3 separate regions of the Homo sapiens genome follow, and regions 2 and 3 are each reported to be linked to region 1. Evidence: microRNA targets listed by miRTarBase, many of them from high-throughput screens and not tested one by one. Region 1 holds a microRNA gene; each other region holds the end of a gene's coding sequence.

Region 1 (4,066 bases):
TCCTGCCCTGCCGGCCTCCGCTTCCACCCACCTGTCCCGCACAGGCTGCAGGCTGAGGGCCACTGCAGAGCCCGCCCCGCCCTGGGACTGCAGCAGGGTCAGGGTCTACACTGCAGGGTGGGGTGGAGGGGCAACACTGCTTTCACTGACATTCAGCTTGGAAACAGGAAGGGGAGGGCGCAGGGAATGAAGGGGCGGGAGGCAGGCGGCCCCTCTGCCCCGCCTCGAGTCCCTGGCAGCCACCAGCGGGGCTTACCTTGCTCGTCCTGCGCCCACCGACGTCCCCTGCGCCAGTGCCACACAGCGGCCAGGGTGACAACGTGACCCACAACCACCAGGGAGGGAAACAGGCTGCCCGAGGGCTCCATAGCCGCCACGCGGAGCCGCCAGGGCTGCCCTTCCTGCGCTGGGAACCGGCTGCTCCAGGCTAGACAGCCCCCTCCCTGCGTGCAGGGCGAGCGAGGGGGAGCGCCGGGACCGGAGCCTGCCCTGCCCGCAGGACCGCCCCATACGCGGCGGCAGCCCCACAACAGCTCCCGCCCGCCTCCTCTCCTCCTCCCTCCGCGGGTCCGGCCCTCGGCGCCTCCCCACCCTCGCTCCCCACCCGGCCGGCTCAGCTGTCCCTGCGCAGGGCTACTGACGCTCAAGGTTAGTTGGCCTTAACCCCTGCGTCCCCGCGGCCACACCCGCCGGGAGGAGGGGCCAGCCGCACGCCTGGCCAAGCCGCAGCCCCCCAGCACTGCCCGCGGCCTCGGCACACACCCTCCCTCCCTCCCAGCCTCCCCCTGCTGTCCCCACCAGAAGAGGGGCCCGAGCAGCCCACTCTGCCTCCAAGGCTGCCCTCTGGGGACAGCTGGCAGGCATGGAGGGATGCCAGAGCCCCCACCTCAAGCCTGCAGCTGAACCCACTGCACTCCTTCAACTTCGCCCTCCTCACCAGCCCCAACACCCCAAAAGTGAGACTGCAGACCAGGGCTGAGGGGGTCTGGGTGAGGGCACATGAGGCAGGCTGTGTGCAGGGCGAGGGACAGCGCCCCTGGCCTCCAGCCTCAGCCCCAGCCCTCTGGCCCCTGTCCCCAGCAAGGGGCCAGGATTTCACAAGGCTTTCAAGGGCTGCCCACCTACCGGGCACGATCTTCATCGGGGACGGTGGCAGGAGCCCACGGGGCAGACGGAGCGGGCCAGGGGTGTGGGAGGTCACAGGCCCCTCGGAGGAGGCACAAGCCACTGGCGGCAGCGTCGGGTGGGAGGAGGGCACGGCCGTGCTGCTGTCAGCAGCAGCTTGTGGGGGAGGGGAGCAGTGGGCAGGGGCCCAGGGGATATAAATATCCGAGGAGGGCGCGCAAGGACCGTCACCACCCAGACTTGGAACATGACGCACGGCGCCAGGGCACCCAGGCCCCGCTGCAGTCAGGTCTGGCTGGACGGTGCCACCCGACACCTCGGTCCCCCAGCTCCCACAGGGGGTTCTAATATAATAGAGCAGGGCGCGGGAGGTGCGGGCTCACGTCCCTGCAGGAGGCGGTGCAGTCCCCACCCACCTGCCCTGCCAAGCCAGGGGGTGCTCTTGGAAAGGCCACAGGGGCCAAGAGAAGAGGCCGCCCATTCTCCCAGAGGGCCCTGCGCAGGTCACTCAACACAGCACCTGGCCCCACCGGTGGCCGGGACAGCCACCCCAAAGTCACGCGCAGGCCAGAGACCCAGGCAGCCCGAAACCAGGGCTCAGGCCTGCGCCTGCCCCACAGCACAGCCTCTCCTGGGGTCCCAGGGATCTGGGATGGAGACGCCTCTCCTGGGCCACGGCAGGAGACTGGCCTGGCTCCACCCAGGAGTCCCGAAGCCCTGCTCTGTGGAAGGCCTGGGTCAGAGAGCCGGGCCACAGGCAGGCCCACAGCATATCCTATGCAGATCAGATCCCAATGCAGCCGGGGAAACAGGACGTGGGACACGCACAGTCCTGCTCCTCTTCCTGGGACCCCTGTCTGCTGGGCGCACCCCTCAGGCCCAGGAGAATGCACGTTGACGGTATACCCCATTCCACAGCGTCGCTCCTGGCACCACATGGAACCCTCAGCAAACCCCATGAAGTCCTATACCATGAAGGCCTCATACAGACCAGGAGCCTGAGGCGCCGCCTGCTGTCCCGCACGCTGCCATCTGAGCCCAGGTGGCCTCCAGTGTAGTTACCTCAGCCCACAGCAAGGCACAGTGAACCAGCCTGGCCCCGGGCCACTGGGCAGGCCACCCAGGTCCATGCTGGGAAGCCCGCGGACAACAAGAGGGCCGGGCCCACCCCAGCCTCCTGCTCTCCAGCCCCACACCTCAAAAACGTGCGGCCGAGGGAAATGCCTGCAGTGGCCCACTCTGGGCGGCCAGGGGTCGGGCGGGCCCAGGCAGCCCTGAGGGTCAGGGATACCCAGGCATGCCAGAAAGGGCCCAACTCCCAGCTGAGCCCAGGACAGCATCTGGCCAGCAGTGGGCAGGGGCCGACAGGCCGGACGTTTCAGCCCACTCCCTGCCACGTGCTGGGGAAGCCTCAGAGGAGCCTGACTCAATGGCCTGGGTGAGAACCAGCTCCTGGCGGGAGGAGTGCCCCAGGCTGGCAGCGGGCAGTTCTTCTACCACTCCACGGAGGTCCGGACAGGCCTGTGCTTCCGGGACACACATCACACACACCCCTGGGGCAGCTCCGAGAGGGGGCTGTGCCTATCCCTGCATCCCAGGTCTGACGGCACAGAACGGTGGACAACGGGAAGAGACAGGTCTGCCAGAGGCGGCCCCGGCCCTCTCCTCTGCCTCCCACAGCCCCCAGCTCTGCCTGCCCTACCTTGGCCCAGCTGAATCAGCTCCTCCATGCTGTACCTGTCCATGGCTGCCACACAGGCCAGGCTGCTCCGAGAGCCGGCAGGGAGGAAGGCGAGGCAGGAAGGAGGGAAGGGGTGGGAGGCAGAGGGAGGGCCCACTCATGCCCTGGTAGCAGCGGCTCCTCCTCGCAGCCACCCCTTAGTCAGTAAGCAGAGATGAAGCCCAGCCGACTGACGGGTCAGACCAGCCCAGCAGACCTGCCTGGGGGTGCAGGGGACTGGCCTGCCTGCAATCCCAGAGAGCCCTCCGGCCCCAGCCCACGGGTCTTCCCTACTGTTCCTGCCCCGCCCAGCAGACCCCCCGCCCAGCAGACCCCACCCTGTAGCCTCCCCTTCCCGCTGCAGGCCCCACCAGCCCAGCCCTGCCCTCCCACCCTCCCACCCACATTCCAGGCATCCATGTGCCCAGCGGTATTTCAGGAGCCAGGCGGGAGCAGAGCCCCAAACTGCCCACCACACCCCACTCCTTGAGACTCACATTCCTCAGCCCCAAAGGTGGTCTCTTCCTCCACCTGAGTCCTCCCCAACCAGCACAGCCCCAGGCATCTGTCCAGGGGCAATGGTGACACCTGCCTCCCCTCTCCATACCTCTCCACCCAGGTGCTTGCTGACCAGTGAAGTGCAAATCAAATCCCATCGTAACTACCCCTTAGAAGCCTGCCGGCGATCTACAGAAATCCCGCAAACGGGTGACTCGGCCAAGCCAGTGATCCCTGTGGAAAGCTGGCCGGGCCATAGTCCCTCCACCTAGAGCACCCTGTGGCTGGGAAGAAGGGCAAGGCAGCCAGGCCACCTCCAGGCTTCCTCCTTGACGCAGGGCCACAGAGGGTCAAGGGGGGAGGTCAAGGCACAGGCGTGTCCTCCGTGTAGAGGGGAAGTCATGGTGGCTACCCAACCCCTGCCCTTTGCTGTGGGAAGCAGCTCTAGGTGCTGTGCGTGTACAGCGCTCACCGTGGTGGCGGCTACCTGGCCCCTGCCCGTTGCTGGTGCATGGACAGCGCTCAGCTGGCGTCTCCTCCACACAATCCTCGGTTCCTTCAGAATTTTGAGCCAGGCAAAGCATCGCCATTTGCAATGTAAATTAGGGCTGGGCGGTAGCTATAATCCCAGCACTTTGGGAGGCTGAGGCAGGCGGATCACCTGAGGTCAGGACTTCAAGACCAGCCTGGCCAACATGGCGAAACCCCGTCTCTACTAAAAAA
Region 2 (4,055 bases), not on the chromosome of region 1:
CATAAAGAACTGTTCACAGATAGGTTGATGAAGAATGCTTGGTAGGTAAGCGCCTGTGTGTGAGCCGAGTCATTCATAAAGAGCTGTTCACAGATAGGGTTGATGAAGAATGCTTGGTAGGTAAGCACCTGTGTGTGAGCCGAGTCATTCATAAAGAGCTGTTCACAGATAGGGTTGATGAAGAATGCTTGGTAGGTAAGCGCCTGTATGTGAGCCAAGTCATTCATAAAGAGCTGTTCACAGATAGGGATGATGAAGAATGCTTGGTAGGTAAGCGCCTGTGTGTGAGCCGAGTCATTCATAAAGAGCTGTCCTTGTGTTGGTCTCATGGGCATCGTGTTTCCTCCGCAGAGCCAGCCCCAGTGCCTGCTGAGCCGTTTGACAACACTACCTACAAGAACCTGCAGCATCATGACTACAGCACGTACACCTTCTTAGACCTCAACCTCGAACTCTCAAAATTCAGGATGCCTCAGCCCTCCTCAGGCCGGGAGTCACCTCGACACTGAGGGCCCTCGGTGTGAAGATGAACCTTCCACCGTCTTCACTGCATCCTGGAGTGCAAAAATAAAATCCACTCAAGAGTCACAAGGCCCGCTGTGCATAATCGGTTTCACTTTTACCTTTTTTTTTTTTTTTTTTTTTTTGAGACAGGGTCTCACTCTGTCACCCAGGCTGGAGTGCAGTGGCACATTCTCGGCTCACTGCAACTTCCGCCTCCTGGGTTCAAGTGATTCTCCCACCTCAGCCTCCCAAGTAGGTGGGATTACAGGTACTCACCACCAGGTCCAGCTAACTTTTGTATTTTTAGTAGAGACAGGGTTTCACCATGTTGGCCAGGCTGGTCTCGAACTCCTGACCTCAGATGGTCTGCCCACCTCCGCCTCCCAAAGTGCTGGGATTACAGGCGTGAGCCACTGCGCCCGGCCACTTTCACACTTTTTACAGTGAGTGGTGAATTAGCAACAGTAACACTGATTATCCAACATATATTTTGGAATATCTACTATGTGCAAGGAATTTTTCTTAAACTCTAAGGTTATGAATCACTGGGCAAATCCATATAATTAGAGAATTTTAAGTGCTTTAGAGCGGTGTGATTCTACTGTGCTCAGCCTAGTCAATTTCGCATTAAACTGATTATCAGCTGAGTATCAATAATGTAATAGTGACTTCTTTTATTTTTTTTGAGATGGAGTCTCTGTTTCCCAGGCTGGAGTCCAGCGGCACAATCTAAACTCACTGCAACCTCCGCCTCCTGGGTTCAAGTGATTCTCCTGCCTTACTTAGCCTCTTGAGTAGCTGGTACTACAGGCTCACGCCACCATGCCTGGCTAATTTTTTTTGTATTTTTAGTAGAGATGGGGTTTCACCATCTTGGCCAGGCTGGTCTTAAACTCCTGACCTCATGATCTACCTGCCTCAGCCTCCCAAAATGCTGGCATTATAGGCGTGAGCCACTGCACCCAGCCAGTAATAGTGACTTCTAATCCTACAGCCCTGGTTTTTGATCATTAGAAACAGGAGTTTTGGCCAGGTGCAGTGGATAATTCCTGTAATCCCAGCGCTTTGGGAGGGCGAGGCGGGTGGAGCACCTGAGGTCAGGAGTTGAGACCGGCCTGGCCAACATAGTGAAACCCCATCTCTACTAAAAATACAAAAATCAGCCAGGCATGCTAGTGGGTACCTGTAATCCCAGCTACTCAGGAAGCTGAGGCAGGAGAATCATTTGAACCTGGGAGGCGGAGGTTGCAGTGAGCAAGATCGTGCCATTGTACTCCAGCCTGGGCAACAGGAGTGAAACTCAATCAAAAAAAAGGAACAGGAATGTTACTAATTTTAACTACTGCATTGCAAACAAATTGTATTGCAGTATTTTACCATCAGAAAAGGAAGGGAATTGTTTTGTTTGCCTCTGTTAGATATTTTATATAAACTTGAGGACATTTTCATTGGTGAGATTCGGAAGAGGTGAAGTTTCTTGCAGTACAGGGACGAAGTAGGAAGAGGTGAAGTTTCGTGCAGTACAGGGACGGAGTAGGAAGAGGTGAAGTTTCGTGCAGTACAGGGACGGAGTAGGAAGAGGTGAAGTTTCGTGCGGTGCAGGGACGGAGTAGGAAGAGGTGAAGTTTCGTGCGGTGCAGGGACGGAGTAGGAAGAGGTGAAGTTTCGTGCGGTGCAGGGACGGAGTAGGAAGAGGTGAAGTTTTGTGCGGTGCAGGGACGAAGTTGCTCCCCGCTGGCCACAGGCACTCAATGAGCTATTTTACCTATTTAGGGTTTCTGGGTTGGCCAAGTAACCTCCCATCCCTTGTGATAGATAACTTTAAGTCACACCTTTGGGGGCAATGTGGGGGGCTCCTGTGCATCACATGGAGCACGCTCCCCCAGCACTCTGCAGAGACAGACCCCCAGTCTGACTTAGAGAAAGTAACCAATGTAGGTGAGGGCCAGGGCACGGTGGCTTACGCCTGTAATCCCAGCACTTTGGGAAGCCAAGGCGGATGGATCACTTGAGGTCAGGAGTTTGAGACCAGCCTGGCCAACATGGTGAAACCCTGTGTCTACTAAAAATACAAAAATTAGCCAACTGTGGTGGTGCGTGCCTGTAATCCCAGCTATTCAAGAGGCTGAGGCAGGAGAATCGCTTGAACCCGGGAGGCGGGGTTTGCAGTAAGCCGAGATCATGCCATTGCATTCAGTCTGGGTGACAGCGTGAGACTGCATCTCAAAAAAAAATTTTTTTTTTTAAATATCAAAATTGAAAACTAGTATTGTGGTCATCTGCCTCAAATTGTGTTACCACACGGGAGACTTAGCAACTCAGCCAGATTCTTCTAAACACATTTTTTATAATAAAAGTGGTAAAACTACATTACCAAAAAGAAAATAGTAAACTTACCTAAAATCCACTATGCTAACCCACCCTTTTTTTTTTTTTTTTTTTTTTTTTTTTTTTGAGACAGCCTCACTCTTGCCCGGAGGAGTGGTGCGATCTCAGCTCACTGCAGCCTCGTCCTCCCAGGCCCAAGCAATCCTCCCATCTCAGCCCACTTTGTAGCTGGGACTGTAGGCACTGGCCACCATGTCCGCCTAATTTTTCTATTTTTTGTAGAGACAGGGTTCAAGAGATCTGCCTGCCTCGGCCCCAGAAAGTTCTGGGATTGCAGGCGTGAGCCCCCATTCCCAGCCATTAACATCTTACAGGATTCCCCAGTGGTGGTGGTAGGTGTAACCATTTTAATGTACCTACAACTTTTCTATCCTGCTATTTGCATTTTTTGGTTTTTCATTTAATAGTTCTCAAGCTGGGATCCGTGGAACTACTGTGATGGGCGGTGATGCTTTGGAAATGGAAATTCCCTTAATATTAAAATGAACATGAATATATTTTGATTTGCATATATTTTTAAGATAAAGCATGAGACTTGTATAAAGTTCTTTCCTGGCTGGGCGCGGTGGCTCATGCCTGTAATCCCTGCACTTTGGAAGGCTGAGGCAGATGGATCACCTGAGGTTGGGAGTTTGAGACCAGCCTGACTAACATGGTGAAACCCCCTCTCTACTAAAATTACAAAATTAGCCGGGCGTGTTGGTGCATGCCTGTAATCCCAGCTACTCAAGAGGCTGAGGCAGGAAAATCACTTGAACCCAGGAGGCAGAGGCTGCAGTGAGTGGAGATTGCAGCATCGCACTACAGCCTGGGCAACAACAGCAAAACTCCGTCTCAAAAAAATAAAGTTCTTCCCTTAGAACTAGTCCTGTTGGGCTAGTCTTTCTGGGATTTTGGTTTACTCTCCTCCACCCATTGGAAGGGCTTAAAACCGAATAGCCAGCACCAAGCACAGCTCTGCATTTTGTAGCTATCACTGCAGATGATTTCTTGATAGTCCATCTGGTGGCAATACAGTGGTCACCCAAGGGGCCATTGTTTGGGTCTATGTGATTTCCCACGTTCTGTTGGAGGCCGGGCGCAGTGCCTCACGCCTGTAATCCCAGCACTTTGGGAGGCTGAGGTGGGCAGATCACGAGGTCAGGAGATCGAGACCGTCCTGG
Region 3 (4,055 bases), not on the chromosome of region 1:
AACCTCTGCTCCTGGGTTCACGCCATTCTCCTGCCTTAGCCTCCCGAGTAGCTGAGACTACAGGCACCCGCCACCATGCCCGGCTAATTTTTTTTTTTTTTTTTTTTTTGTATTTTTAGTAGAGACAGGGTTTCACCATGTTAGCCAGGATGGTCTTGATCTCCTGACCTCATGATCCGCCCGCCTCAGCCTCCCAAAGTGCTGGGATTACAGGCGTGAGCCACCACGCCCGGCCCAGGATCAGATTTCAAACCCATGTCTGACTCAAAGCTCTTGGTCTTTCCACTGTACCAAGACTTTCAGAGTCTGGGGGTAAAATAAAACTGTTATATTAATACATTGTGTTTAATGTTTATTAAGATAGTTGGTTGGATTTTTAAATATTGTCCTCTCAACCTAAAAATGCTACCTTTCCTAGACCTAAATGTTGTCTCTCTGCTTAGCTCTTCAGCCGTCTATGAAAGGGGGAGGCACACTCCCTCCATCATTTTCAGAAGACCTGAGGAGGCTGCCTTGTCTCCATTGCCGCCTTCTGTGGAGGATGCAGGATTACCTTCTTATGAACAGGCAGTGGCGCTGACCAGAAAACACAGTGTTTCACCACCACCACCATATCCTGGGCACACAAAAGGATTTAGGGTATTTAAAAAATCTATGTCTCTCCCATCTCACTGACTACCTTGTCATTTTGGTATAAGAAATTTGTGTTATTTGATAGGCCGGGCATGGTGGCTCATGCCTGTAATCCCAGCACTTTGGGAGGCCAGGAGTTCGAGACCAGCCTGGCCAACATGGTGAAACCCGGTCTCTACTAAAAATTCAAAAATTACCTAGGCGTCATGGGGCATGCCTGTAGTCCCACCTACTTGGGAGGCTGAAGCAGGAGAATTGCTCGAACCTGGGAGGCAGAGGTTGCAGTAAGCTGAGATCACGCCACTGCATTCCAGCCTGGGCGACAGAGCAAGACTCCATCTCAAAAATAAAATAAAAAAAGAAAGAAAGAAAAGAAGAAGAAAAGAGAAGAAGGAGAAGGAGATGAAGGAGGAGGAGGAGGAGAAGGAGAAGAAGAAGAAGAAGAAGACCACAAAAGACATGACTATCCAACTTTTTATGACAAACTGCAAGGAATAAAGGAAGAATAAGTCCATGTACTGTACCACAGAAGTTCTGTCTGCATCTTGGACCTGAACTTGATCATTATCAGCTTGATAAGAGACTTTTTGACTCTATATCCTTGCAGTTAAGAAGAAAGCACTTTTTTGTAATGTTTGTTTTAATGGTTCAAAAAAAATCTTTCTTATAAAGAGCATAGGTAGAATTAGTGAACTCTTTGGATCCTTTGTACAGATAAAGGTTATAGATTTCTTGTGTTGAATATTAAAAAAGCAAGGATGTCTAACCATTAAGATTATCCAAAGTCAGGCTGGGCGCAGTGGCTCACGCCTGTAATCCCAGCACTTTGGGAGGGATAGGTGGGCGGATCACCTGAGGTCAGGAGTTTGAGACCAGCCTGGCCAACATGGCAAAACCCCGTCTCTACAAAAATACAAAAGAAATTAGCCAGACATGATGGCGGGTGCCTCTAATCCCAGCTACTGGGGAGGCTGAGGTGGGAGAATCGCTTGAACTCGGGAGGTGGAGGTTGTAGTGAGGCGAGATTGTGCCATTGCACTCCAACCTGGGCGACAGAGTGAGACTCCATCTCAAAAAAAAAAAAAAAAAAAAAGATTATCCAAAAAGATATTGGACCTACTCTTTCTTAGGATTTTTTTGGCGGGGGGTTAGAAATACTTCACAGAATTTGACATTTCAGTATAAATCTGTGACCTTAATATAATCACTTGGTTTTATATGTTAAATTATTGCACAGCAGTCATCATATTTTGCAGAGTTTAGTTCTTAACTCTTGCTGTCAGTCATGTTTTATTATAGGTAGTGGGGTCAGTAGTTTTCTTCTTCTAAAAAATACTATTTGCTATGAAGTTAGTTCTTCAGAAGATACAAGTTTGCAATGAAAAGGATTTGCAAGGGTTGTTATGCTATCAAATAAACAGACCTAAAATCTAGGAGACACTAGAACTTAATGAAGTTGCCCCTGTTACTGATTAGTAAATACTCCCATCTTCGTTGCAAAATTATCTCTCTGTATAACTACATATGATTATTTTGAAATTTGTTAAACTTCATAAGTAATAGTTTGAGAATGTGGAAAAAGTAATTTGCTTTTCTGCTCTTAAAATAATATTGATTAATGTTACCAGAAACCTTTTGCATCTCTTAATATGTCTGAACACAAAAGGAAAACACCATAATCATATAAACCCATTCTTTGTCTCTTCTTCTAAATCATATGTATAACCAGTTTTTCCTTAAGAATGTAGCAGCATATAAGCTATAAATTTCTGGAGTATATGCACACAAATTTATCTGGGTGGGTATGTAGGTATATGTGAGTTTGTTTCCTCTTCCAGGAGCTCAAGAAATAACATACTCCTGAAAAATAGAATAGAAATTTCTGTGCTTTATGTTTTTGCCAGGCTATTACATTTTCTTATCATTTAGGATCACTTATAAAATGATCATTGTTTATTTTGTTTTATAATTTTTACAGGAGTGAGACTGCAAACCCACATGTTTGATAGTTCCTACCAAATTAAAAGTTTAGAAAGCATAAATCATATTACAGTGCATATGTGAGTGTATGTCTCTCTTTTAAGATGCATCATCTTAAGGCAGATAAAAGTAAGTCCTTAATCATTACAGACTGCCAAAGACTTTATCCTTTTAGATTCTCAGTCTCTTTGTTGCTTGTTGCAAATAAATCATCTAGCAACATTTACATTTAATTAGGAAATCTAACTTGCTTTTAAAAGTTACCCACGTTGCATATAAAAATCTTGCTATTCCTTGTGTCTTGGCTTTACATAAGCACTTTTGCTCATGTGACTTTGCACTTTGCACTTATTTTAATCCTCTTTAAAGGGCTACAGGCAAATTCTACTTTGCCATAATCACACTAAGGCATGGAAGAACAACTTGCCCAGAATCTAGCAGGTTGGTGACAACTGGGTTTAGAATGAGTGAGCACACTTTTCTAGTCCCATGTCATGCCTATAAAATTACACTGCCTCGAATTATGAAATTCAGGGATCTTGTACATAATTCTAAGTTTGGGACAGAAATTTACAAGCATTTCTCATATATACATACATTTATATATGTACATGTTACATATATTTAGATGTATTCTCATATACATATGAAAATATTTATGATGAATAGAATTATAAGATATGTATGTATCTTGCACTGAATCATAATTTGAAATATTTCATGAATTCATTTACTTCTATTGACTCCCAAAATTCTAACTGCAAGCTAGCTTCAGAACCTGTGAGAACCCCACCCCACCCAAGCAGCTGCCTAGATTTGTCTACTGCTATCATTTTGTGTAAAGCAGTTGCTCTAACTTGAATGAGTCTAGAATTCATCATTAAGATTGTGATATTTATAGAGCATCCAATGTGGAGATCATGATACTTTAAATATAAAAAGGAAAATATGATAGAACTGTTATTGACAAATGCTTATAATGATTGAAGGGAAAGTATCTCAACATTGTATCAGTCACATATATTTCTGTTGCTTTCACCATTTTCTATTCCTGTTGTAAGTTTGGTGGTAGATTTAGTTTTGTTTGGTTTATCTGTTTTGTTTGTGTTTTGTCTCCTGGCAATTGATTAGTGTTAATCATTAAATCTATTTTGACACAAGGTTTTATATATAATTAGATCAGTTTTCCACTTTATTACAATTAAGAAATGAGTAAAATATGGATATAAAAGGAGAATTGGATTGAAAAGACAAATACACATTTACAAGGTCATACCTTTGGTAGGACAGACAATTCCATATAGAATATTCTCTTTTGATAATGAAAAAAATTAAAGAGAGCACAAACTTTGACTATGTCAAAGTATTTTTATTTTTAATTTTTTGAGACAAGGTCTTGCTCTGCTACCCAGGCTGGAGTGCAGTGGTGCAATCACAACTCA

What was found. The annotated mature microRNA hsa-miR-661 reads UGCCUGGGUCUCUGGCCUGCGCGU and lies in region 1 at 1,684-1,707, opposite strand. An mRNA with a match to its seed (bases 2 to 7 or 8) in the 3' UTR can be bound and repressed. Matches are read on the target gene's strand: a 7mer-m8 pairs with bases 2 to 8, a 7mer-A1 pairs with bases 2 to 7 and ends in A, and an 8mer does both.
Region 2: miRTarBase lists NDUFV3 as a target of hsa-miR-661. Seed matches in the 3' UTR shown: 7mer-m8 at 670-676, 7mer-m8 at 1,208-1,214, 7mer-A1 at 1,668-1,674 and 7mer-m8 at 3,020-3,026.
Region 3: miRTarBase lists PRRG4 as a target of hsa-miR-661. Seed matches in the 3' UTR shown: 7mer-m8 at 4,021-4,027.

What each region holds. Positions count from the first base shown.
Region 1 is chr8:143,943,523-143,947,588 of GRCh38, forward strand. MIR661 (microRNA 661) reads right to left here and starts at 1,757; the gene lies at 1,669-1,757. It overlaps LOC124902040 (a long non-coding RNA gene), which reads left to right and starts at 342. Exons shown (of 2, transcript XR_007061144.1): 1 at 342-648; 2 at 2,044-4,066. It also overlaps a transcript of PLEC not described here. RefSeq lists a silencer at 389-658 and enhancers at 3,187-3,974, 3,975-4,066.
Region 2 is chr21:42,908,513-42,912,567 of GRCh38, forward strand. It overlaps NDUFV3 (NADH:ubiquinone oxidoreductase subunit V3), which reads left to right. Exons shown (of 4, transcript NM_021075.4): 4 at 352-4,055. The coding sequence ends at 509. Among named protein-coding and RNA genes, the nearest start is that of ERVH48-1, 15 kb to the right of the region's middle.
Region 3 is chr11:32,852,853-32,856,907 of GRCh38, forward strand. It overlaps PRRG4 (proline rich and Gla domain 4), which reads left to right. Exons shown (of 6, transcript NM_024081.6): 6 at 444-4,055. The coding sequence ends at 675. Among named protein-coding and RNA genes, the nearest start is that of PRRG4, 25 kb to the left of the region's middle.